Linked DNA regions of Homo sapiens: region 2 is linked to region 1. The links come from fine-mapping of genetic effects on gene expression. A gene starts in region 1. The other region holds a variant in brackets. All regions are shown on one strand. Distances are between the middles of the regions. Region 1 holds the start of TMEM107 (transmembrane protein 107). Region 2 overlaps LOC124903913 (a long non-coding RNA gene).

Region 1 (5,483 bases):
CAGCTCACTGCAATCTCCACCTCGTGGGTTCAAGAGATTCTCCTGCCTCAGCCTCCCGAGTAGCTGGGACTACAGGAGCGTGCCACGATGCCTGGCTAATTTTTGTATTTTTAGTAGAGACGGGGTTTCTCCATGTTGGCCAGGCTGGCCTTGAACTCCTGACCTCAGATGATCCACCCGCCTCGGCTTCCCAAAGTGCTGGGATTACAGGCGTGAGCCACCGCGCCCGGCCTAAAACTTTATTAAAAAGATATCTATGTATGTATATATGTGTGTGTGTGTGTATATATATATATATATATATATATTTTTTTTTTTTTTTTTTTTGAGTTGGAGTCTTGCTCTGTTGTCCAGGCTGGAGTGCAGTGGCGCAATCTCGGCTCATTGTAACATCCGCCTCCCGGGTTCAAGCGATTCTCCTGCCCCAGCCTCCCGAGTAGCTGGGAATACAGGTGTGTGCCACCATGCCCGGCTAATTTTTTTTTTTTTTTTTTTTTTTGTATTTTTAAATAGAGACGGGGTTTCATCATGTTTGTCAGGCTGGTCTCAAACTCCTGACCTCAGGGGATCCGCCCGCTTCGGCCTCCCAAAGTTCTGGGATTACAAGCGTAAGCCACCATTCCCGGCCTTTATTATTGTTTTAACAGAGAGAGGTGTCTCACTATGTTGCTCAGACTGGCTTCAAAGTCTTGGGTTCAAGGAATACTTCGCCTTGGCCTCCCAAAGTGCTGGGATTACAGGCATGGGCTTTTGCTTCTGGTCCCAGAGTGCATTTTCTTTTTATTTCTTTTCTTTTTTTTTGAGACGAAGTCTTGGTCTGTTTCCCAGGCGGGAGTGCAGTGGCACGATCTTGGATCACTGCAACCTCTGCCTCCCGGGTTCAAGCACTTCTCCTCCCTCAGCCTCTGGAATAGCTGGGATTAGAGGCGGGCGCCACCACACCTGGCTAACTTTTTAACTTTTTTTTTTTTTTTTTTTTCAGTAGAGATGAGGTTTCACCATGTTGGCCAGGCCGGTCTGAAACTCCTGACCTCAGGTGATCTCCCTGCCTCGGTCTCCCAAAGTGCTGGGATTACATGCCTGAGCCACCGCTCCCGGCCAATTTTTGGCCAAAGTTTCTAAAATAAAGTTTAAGGTTAAATGTCCGGCTGGGCGCGGTGGCTCATGCCTGTAATCCCAGCACTTTGCAAGGCCGAGGCTGGCGGATCACGAGGGCAGGAGATCGAGACCATCCTGGCTAACACAGTGAAACTCCGTCTCTCCTAAAAACACAAAAAATTAGCCGGGCATGGTGGCGAGCGCCTGTAGTCCCAGCTACTCAGGAGGCTGAGACGGGAGAATGGCGTGAACCCGGGAGGCCGAGCTTGCAGTGAGCCGAAATTGCGCCACTGCACTCCAGCCTGGGAGACAGAGCGAGACTCCGTCTCAGAAAAAGTAAATAAATAAAATAAAACAAAATAAATGCTCTATTTTAATAGAATTATAAATGCCCTATTTTTATAGAATTATAATTCTAGCGTTTCTTTTTTTTTTGGAGACGGAGTTGCGCTCTTGTTGCAGAGGCTGGAGTGCAATGGCGCGATCTCGGCTCACTGCAACCTCCACCTCCTGGGTTCAAGCGATTCCCATGCCTCAGCCTCCCGAATAGCTGGGATTACAGGCACGCGCCACCACGCCCGGCTAATTTTGTATTTTTAGTGGAGACAGGGTTTCAGCATGTTGGTCAGTCTGGTCTCGAGCTCCTGACCTCAGGTGATCCGCCCTCCTAGGCCTCCTAAAGCGCTGGGATTACAGGTGTGAGCCACAGTGCACAGCCCGCTTTTCCCTGTTTGTAGCGCCTATTATCTTACGGATTTATTTGTTTGCATGTCTGTTGTTGATCTCCCTGACTAGAATACCCTTACTAGGTAATCAATAAACATATACAAATATTTGTTGAAGGAATGAGAAATGCCTCTTGGGCTTGTAGTTTAGGCTGGCTAAAAGCACTGAGATGGGGAGTGGGGAGTAGGAAGAGATTGTTCTCCTGGGAGATGGGCCGGGAGGTTCCTTGAGGATGGGACTTGACTCAGCAATTAAAGAACTTTCAGATCTGCAGGGACCTGCGCTGAGGCCCAAAGGTCATGAGGTCGCCGATGATAAGAGCTTCTTGGACTGTAGCTGGGCAATGTCGGAGGCCCAGCACCTCCAAGGGACAAAGAAATCTGAGTTGAGTTTCCCTTCCAGCCGGCTCCAAGCCTCCCAGAGACGCAGGGACTGTCCCATTCCCTTCGTCCACTCCCACTCTTTCCAGCCACCTTGCTCTGCTCTTATCCCCATGCTAGTTTAAGGACGCTGGCCATTTTTTGCACTCTGCAAATCCCTCACCAAACTGAGCAAAGTAGTCTGAAAGAAATCAGTCTTCCTCAAGGAAGGTTCAGGCCTGGGGTCCTCAGACAACCAGGGGCTCCGTGACAATCTGTGACTGCAGAGCAGTCCAGGAACACCGGCCTCTCCAGGTTCGGGTCCCTTGTTTCTCAGGCCCAGCTTGGTGGGAAGCTAAAGGCATGCAGAGGAGGGGAAGGGGAGCGGGTCTGAGTCTTCGGCATGGCGGGGAACTCAGCCCGGCGTGGTGGTGGCAGCGGTCTCAAGTGATCCACAACTGGGCAGCGTAGCTGGGGCTGGGGGCCGCTCCCGGCGTGGGCAACAGCAGAAGCATTGGTGTCCCCAAGCTAGGCCAGGGTGGGTTTCCGTTCATCCGCCCTGCGTGGGCAGATCGGGCGCTGCGGGGCTGTGCCACCTCGCACCCTCTGAGGAACAAAGGGCCTGGCTGCGCGCGGGTACCCAGCCGTTAGGTTAGAAGCGCCTTCGGGTACCCCTGACCTTCGCTGGCCCTGAGAGACCCGCAGCAGCCGGAGAATGTACTGCTCGCGAGGATTTCCGAGAACGCGGCGCCGAGCCCGCGTACACGGTTACCAAGGCAACTGGGCGGTGCCTGAGCGGGCGGGAAGGAGGCGTTCGTCTAGATTTGTCGGCTTGCGGGGAGACTTCAGGAGTCGCTGTCTCTGAACTTCCAGCCTCAGAGACCGCCGCCCTTGTCCCCGAGGGCCATGGGCCGGGTCTCAGGGCTTGTGCCCTCTCGCTTCCTGACGCTCCTGGCGCATCTGGTGGTCGTCATCACCTTATTCTGGTCCCGGGTAAGACCCACGGCTGCACTCAATCCGTCCCCATTCCCATCTCTGAGTGGTCCTAGTCCTACCCTGCCCCCTCCCAGTGTCTTACCCTCTTGGGTTTTCTTGTTTCCCGCCGCCCCCAGGCCTGCCCTGCAGCCTGCCCCTTTTTCACTTCTCTTCCTGTGCCCTGCTCCCAGGACAGCAACATACAGGCCTGCCTGCCTCTCACGTTCACCCCCGAGGAGTATGACAAGCAGGACATTCAGTGAGCTCTTGGGACGGGGTGGCCAGAACGAAGAGGTGGTGGGAGTGGAGGGGTCTTAGAATAAGTCCAAAGGCCTGGGCCAGTCCACTTCCTCTCTGCAGGCTGGTGGCCGCGCTCTCTGTCACCCTGGGCCTCTTTGCAGTGGAGCTGGCCGGTTTCCTCTCAGGAGTCTCCATGTTCAACAGCACCCAGAGCCTCATCTGTATCCTTTCTGCCTGCCCACCTTTCCCACACGACCCACTTCTATCAGGACTCCCTTCAGCCACCTGACACAATAGTGTCTGCTGTAGCCAATCCTTCCAGTTCAAAGATCTTCAACGATGTGCTAAATCCTGCTGTTTACTAGGCACTTAAAATCCCAAAATGAGAGTAAAATACAGTTTTTGGCCAGGCATGTTGGCTCACGTCTGTAATCCCAGCACTGTGGGAGGCGCAGGCAGGAGGCAACATAGTGAGAACCCAAGTCTACAAAAATAATAGGAATAATAAAAACCCCACCGTTTCTTTTTACAATGAGGAGGAGGTAGATACAAATCTGTAATTCAGTGTGATAAGCACTGTGCTATAGAAGTGTGTGAAGATAGAAAGCACAGGCAGGGCGCGATGGCTCACGCATGTAATCCCAGCACTTTGGGAGGCCGAGGCAGGTGGACCACCTGAGGTCAGGAGTTCGAGACCGGCCTGACCAACATGGTGAAACCCCCGTCTCTACTAAAAATACAAAAATTAGTCGGGCGTGGCGGCGCACTCCTGTAATCCCAGCTACTCAGGAGACTGAGGAAGGAGAATTGCTTGAACCCGGGAGGCAGAGGTTGCAGTGAGCTGAGATCGTGCCACTGCACTCCAGCCAGGGCAACAGAGCAAGACTCTGTCAAAAAACAAACAAAAGATATAAAGCACAATGGGAACTCAGAAGAGGCAACGGAAGCGAGCACTGGGAACTCAGAAGAGGCAAAGGAGATGAGGCACATGGGTCAGAGAATTGTGGACCAGGAGGACCAGGACACTGGAGGCTGATTCCAGCGCATATTAAGTCGCTGTCAGCACTCCTTTGTGGCATAGCAGAAGGAGAGCCTACTCTTACCTCTCATCTGAAGGATCCAGGCTGGCCCACAGATAAGGGGTAGGGTAGCCTGAGGTCCGATCTGTGCAGTCACTTCTGGTCTCTCCTCACATGACTGTCCTAAAATTCAGAAGTCAGAGCTGCTGACTCTAGCCCTTGAAACATGGTGAGGGAGCAAGGGATGAACCTGAATGCAGATGCCAGCCCCACCACTGGCCTTTTCTGACCCATCACTGTCTGTCGATCCAAAGACTTTCCTTAATCTCGTGCCTTCCCAAGCCATTGGGGCTCACTGTAGTGCATCCGTGGCCCTGTCCTTCTTCATATTCGAGCGTTGGGAGTGCACTACGTATTGGTACATTTTTGTCTTCTGCAGGTGTGGTAGCATCCAATATTTGGGGATGAGGGAGGAAGGTTGGCCCTAAACCTGAAGGTTTTTCCCCTACCCAGCCCTTTCCTCCATGTGTGAGATACCAGATCCACTCAACATCCTGTAGGCTTTTAAAGTTTCATCCCCTACCCCCCATGCCACCTGCCCTACACTTTCAGAGGTGGGGTCTCTGGTTTGGAGATTTGGGTATTTATACTGAAAGGGTTTCTGAATCTACCACTTGCCTTGGTAGTGCCCTTCCAGCTGTCACTGAAATGGCTTTATTCGTCACCGTCTTTGGGCTGAAAAAGAAACCCTTCTGATTACCTTCATGACGGGAACCTAAGGACGAAGCCTACAGGGGCAAGGGCCGCTTCGTATTCCTGGAAGAAGGAAGGCATAGGCTTCGGTTTTCCCCTCGGAAACTGCTTCTGCTGGAGGATATGTGTTGGAATAATTACGTCTTGAGTCTGGGATTATCCGCATTGTATTTAGTGCTTTGTAATAAAATATGTTTTGTAGTAACATTAAGACTTATATACAGTTTTAGGGGACAATTGAGATGGCTGAACTACTGAATAAAAAAAAAACAACGCTGTTTTCTAGTCCTGCAGACCGTAAGATACTTGGTAT
Region 2 (5,247 bases), 21 kb before region 1:
TTCTCTGAGAAACAGCAGAACCAAACAGGGGTCTTGTACATTCCAATCACCAATTGCCCCAAGTTACCTCTGTTCACCTATTATCTGTCTTTCCCCTTCTCAAGTCCTGTCAGGGAGCCCCTCCAGATATACTCTGAACCCAGGCCTCCTACTATTCAACAACTTCATTCCAGTAATTGTCCCCTTTCGCTTTTCTACCATTTATATATATATATATATGTGTGTGTGTATACACACACATATCTATATCTATATCTATATCTATATATCCTTTTTTTTTTTTTGGCTGGATAAGTCTCATCACCATGCAAACATCTAGCATCCAAAAAAAAAAAAAAAAATAGGCCAGGGAGTTTGGCTCAGGCCAACTTTATATCTGTAAGCTCTGCCTCAATATCTGTGTGGAGAAGAGTGACGACAGACTGACACAGGCAGCCAAGGTGTTGGAGCAACTCACAGGCCAGACCCCTGTGTTTTCCAAAACTAGATGCACTGTCAGATCTTTTGTTTTCAGGAGAAATGAAAAGATTACTGTTGACTGCACAGTTCCAGGGGCCAAGGCAGAAGAAATCCTGGAGAAAGGTCCAAAGGTATGGGAGTATGAATTATTTTTTCTTAACTTCTCAGATACTGGAAACTTTGGTTTCCAGGAACACAAGAATCTGGGTATCAAATATGAAATCTTTGGCTGCGACTTTCTTTCTTTTTCTTTTTTTTTTTTGAGACAGGGTCTCACTCTGTCATCCAGGCTCAAGTGCAGTGGTGTGATCACAGCTCACTGCAGCCTTGAACTTGTGGGCTCAAGCAATCCTCCTGCCTCAGCCTCTGGAGCAGCTGGAACCACAGGTGCACACCACCACACCCGGGTAATTTTTTTTTCTCTTGTAGAGATGGGGTCTTATTATGTTGCCAAGGCTGGTGTTGAACTCCTGGGCTCAAGCGATCCTCCCACCTCGGCCTCCCAAAGTGCTGGGATTATAGGCTTGAGCCACTGTGCCAAACCCATGGTTTTATTTTTATTTTATTTTTGAGATGGAGTCGCTCTGTCACCCAAGCTGGAGTGCGGTCGCACAGTCTCAGCTCACTGCAACCTCCGCCCTCCGGGTTCAAGCAATTCTCCTGCCTCAGCCTCCCGAGTAGCTGGGATTACAGGCGCGTGCCACTGTGCCTAGCTAATTTTTATATTTTCAGTAGGGGTTTCACCATGTTGGCCAGGGTGATCTTGAACTCCTGACCTCAGGTGATCCACCCGCCTCAGCCTCTCAAAGTGCTGGAATTACAGGCGTGAGCCACTGTGCCCGGCCCAGCCCGTGGTTTTAAATACGACTCCCACATTTGTATTTCTCACCTTGACGTCCCTATCAAGCTTGAGACTAACACATTCTTGGCAATCTAATAGGCTTCTCAAAGTAAGCATGCCTAAAATAGTACTTTTTTTTTTTTTTAGACAGAGTTTTGCTCTGTTGCCCAGGCTGGAGTGCTGTGGCATGATCTCGGCTCACTGCAACCTCTGCCTCCCGGGTTCAAGCGATTCTCCTCCCTCAGCCTCCTGAGTAGCTGGGATTACAGGCACACGCCACCATGCCCAGCTAATTTTTTTTTTTTGTATTTTTAGTAGAGACGGGGGTTTCATCATGTTGGCCAAGCTGATCTCGAACTCCTGACCTCAGGTGATCCCCCGACCTTGGCCTCCCAAAGTGCAGGGATTACAGGCGGGAGCAACCACGCCTGGCCTAAAATAGTATTCTTAATTCAGTGCCCACCCAATCAAAAAAGTTGTAACTTCCCCATCTCAGTCAATAGCACTATCATTTAGCACCCAGTTACTTGGGTCAAAAACCTAGAAATCATTCCTGGTTTCTCTCTTTTTTCTTCCTCACCTCCCCAGATCTTCCA[A/C]CTCTTCCTATTGCCAACCAAATCCATGGAGAGGCCCACCTTTATTACACACACACCCCATCACTCTCATGCTGGTTCAAGTCACCATCCTTTCTGGCTTGGGTGATAACAACCTCCTAACTATTCTCTCTGCTTCTTCTGTTCCTGCCTCCTAGAGTCCATTCCCCCAACAGTCAAAGTCAGAGCATATCATTCCTCTGTTCAAAACCCTCCTTTGGTTTTTCGGTGTATTTACAATAAAATCAAAACTCCTTATCATGGCTGGCAAGGTCCTATCTTCAGGGGTTATCAACAATGGCTGCACATTAGAAACATCTGAAGGACTTAAAAAGAAAATAGGAGACCGGGCGCGGTGGCTTACGCCTGTAATCCCAGCACTTTGGGAGGCTGAGGCGGGCGGATCACGAGGTCAGGAGATCAAGACCATCCTGGCTAACACGGTGAAACCCTGTCTCTACCAAAAATACAAAAAAAAATTACCTGGGCGTGGTGGTGGGTGCCTGTAGTCCCAGCTACTCAGGAGGCTGGGGCAGGAGAGTGGCATGAACCCAGGAGGCGGAGCTTGCAGTGAGCTGAGATCGTGCCACTGCACTCTAGCCTGGGCGACAGAGCGAGATTCCGTCTCAAAAAAAAAAAAACCAAAAAACAAAAAACTCCCAGGCCTTGCCCTAACAAATTCAGATTTCATTGATCTGGGTTGAGGCTGGAGCATCCATGTCGCTTTTAACTCCCCAGGTGGTTCTGAGGGGTTCAGAAGCCCTTCCCTAAGAGTTCTGGTCCTTCCCCACCAATGGATGCTCCTCTGTAACTGCTCTTCCACTTCCATCACTAAAGCTCTGACCTCGGCTGGGCGCGGCAGCTCATGCCTGTCATCCCAGCACTTTGGGAGGCCGAGGCGGGTGGATCACCTGAGGTCTGGGGTTCAAGACCAGCCTGGCCAACATGGTGAAATCCCATCTGTACTAAAAATACAAAAAAAAAAAAAAAAAAAAAAAATTAGCCGGGCGTGGTGGCGGGTGCATGTAATCCCAGCTACTTGGGAGAATGAAGCAGAAGAATCTCTTGAACCCCGGGAGTGGAGGTTGCAGTGAAGCAAGATTGGGCCATTGCACTCCAGCCTGGGCAACAAGAGGGAAACTCCATCTCAAAAAAAAAAAAGAAAAGAAAACAAAGACATCATCTCCTCACACGTGAAAATTCCAAGTATCCAGAGCAAGAGCCATCCCCAAATGTAATGTAAAACCATGGCATAATTCTACATGCCACATAAAACCTGCATTCCACCCCCATCCCACTCAACAAGCCCTACAGACAATACAAGGGCTGATGCCCTGGGGTATGGGGAGAAAACTGTCCTAGTTGACATTCTTCTAAATGCTGAGCATAGCTGACTGGGGCATTTGTTCATTTTTGGGACTTGATGATCACCTTACCTTCCCACTGAATGGATGATGCCAAAAAAAGAAAGCAGAAAAGATATCCAGCCTTGCTTGTTCCCCTGATAGGTCGGCAGATAACTTCTCTCTACTTCTGTGAAGTAATGTGGGCACTGGCAACATTGAGGGTGGGTAATCTGACCCCCACCCCTACTGTGGCCTATGGAGGGGTGAGACCTGTGGATGATCGAGCTTTCACTTTGAGTCAGCATGTCTCACTTTGAATTCCTTCACCATTGCTTATTAGCCATGTGACCTTGGCCAAGTTATTTTTGTATTTTTGTGAGTCTTTTTTTTTGAGACAGACTCTGTCACCCAGGCTGGAGTGTGGTGGCGCTGTCTCAGCTCACTGCAACCTCCGCCTCCTGGGTTGAAGCGATTCTAATAGAGACAGGGTTTCACCATGTTATCCAGACCAGCCTTGAACTCCTGACCTCAAGTGATCCACCTGCCTCGGCCTCCCAAAGTGCTGGGATTACAGGCGTGAGCCACGGCACCCAGCCAGCCACTGCGCCTGGCCTTTTGTGAGTCTTTAAGATGGAAATAACAGTCATTTCTTACGTATAACATGGGCTGTTCCCAATTGCATTAATATACATAGACATCTTGTTTTGTTTTGTTTTGTTTCGTTTGTTTGTTTTGAGATGGAGTCTCACTCTTGTTGCCCAGGCTGGAGTGCAATGGCATGATCTCCGTTCACTGCAACCTCCACCTCCCAGGTTCAAGTGATTCTCCTGCCTTAGCCTCCCGAGTAGCTGGGATTACAGGCATGCGCCACCACACCCAGCTAATTTTTATATTTTTAGTAGAGACAGGGTTTCACCATGTTGGCCAGAATGGTCTCTAACTCCTCACCTCAGGTGATCCACCGGCCTCGGCTTCCCAAAGTGTTGGGATTACAGATGTGAGCCACCGTGCCTGGCCCTTACATAGAAATTTTTACTTTCTAAAAATAATATTTTAAAATGCTGTTGGGGGCTGGGCGCAGTGGCTCACGCCTGTAATCCCAGCACTTTGGGAGGCTGAGGCGGGCCAGGTGGGGCGAGGTGGATCACGAGGTCAGGAGATCGAGACCATCCTGGCTAACACGGTGAAACCCCGTTTCTTCTAAAAATACAAATAATTAGCCGGGCATGGTGGCGGGCGCCTGTAGTCCCAGCTACTGGGGAGGCTGAGGCAGGAGAATGGCATGAACCCGGGAGGCAGAGCTTGCAGTGAGCCGAGATCATGCCACTGCACTCCAGCCTGGGCGACAGAGTGAGACTTCGTCTCAAAATAAATAAATAAATAAAACAAAATAAAATAAAATGCTGTTGGAGGCCAGGCACTGTGGCTGATGCCTGTAATGCTAGCACTTTGGGCAGATCATCTTAGGTCAGGAGTTTGAGACCAGCCTGGCCAACAAGGTGAAACCCTGTCTCTACTAAAGATAAAAAAATTAGCCGGGTGTGGTGGCATATGCCTGTAGTCCCAGATACTCAGGAGGCTGAGGCAGAGAATCGCTTGAACCCGGGAGGCGGAGGTTGCAGTGAGCTGAGATGGTGCCACTGCACTCCAGCCCGGGCAACAGAGCAAGACTGTGTCTCAAAAAACAACAACAATACAACACACAAAAAAAAGACAATACATAAGTGAATGAACATAGCTGTGTTCCAATAAAAATTTATAGACTCTGAATTTTTTTTTTTTTTTTTTTTTTGGAGACAGCGTTTCATTCTGTTGCCCAGGCTGGAGTGCAGTGGTGTGATCTTAGCTCACTTCAACCTCTGCCTCCTGGGTTCAAGCAATTCTCGTGCTTCAGCTTCCCGAGTAGCTGGGACTATGGGCACACATCACCATGCCCAGCTATTTTTTTTTTTTTTTTTGAGATGAAATGTTCTGTCGCCCGGGCTGGAGTGCAATGGAGCGACCTTGG

The links. PIP is the estimated chance that this variant, and not a neighbour inherited with it, causes the effect. A credible set is the group of variants that fine-mapping cannot tell apart.
Region 2: its variant is the best candidate, but not a certain one, in a credible set for the expression of TMEM107 in blood mononuclear cells (TOPMed, PIP 0.58).

The regions. Positions count from the first base shown.
Region 1 is chr17:8,173,893-8,179,375 of GRCh38, reverse strand. It overlaps TMEM107 (transmembrane protein 107), which reads left to right and starts at 2,996. Exons shown (of 5, transcript NM_183065.4): 1 at 2,996-3,176; 2 at 3,350-3,417; 3 at 3,519-3,619; 4 at 4,760-4,856; 5 at 5,104-5,483. The coding sequence starts at 3,090. The coding sequence ends at 5,173. LOC105371520 (a long non-coding RNA gene) reads right to left here and starts at 5,266. Exons shown (of 4, transcript NR_188261.1): 1 at 5,178-5,266; 2 at 4,502-4,600. RefSeq lists enhancers at 2,699-2,818, 2,234-2,845, 2,999-3,048, 3,119-3,208, 3,369-3,418 and 3 more.
Region 2 is chr17:8,194,556-8,199,802 of GRCh38, reverse strand. LOC124903913 (a long non-coding RNA gene) reads left to right here. Exons shown (of 2, transcript XR_007065604.1): 1 at 1-590. Among named protein-coding and RNA genes, the nearest start is that of BORCS6, 7.0 kb to the right of the region's middle. RefSeq lists an enhancer at 3,467-3,776. The variant A/C (reference allele first, on the strand shown) is at 1,897.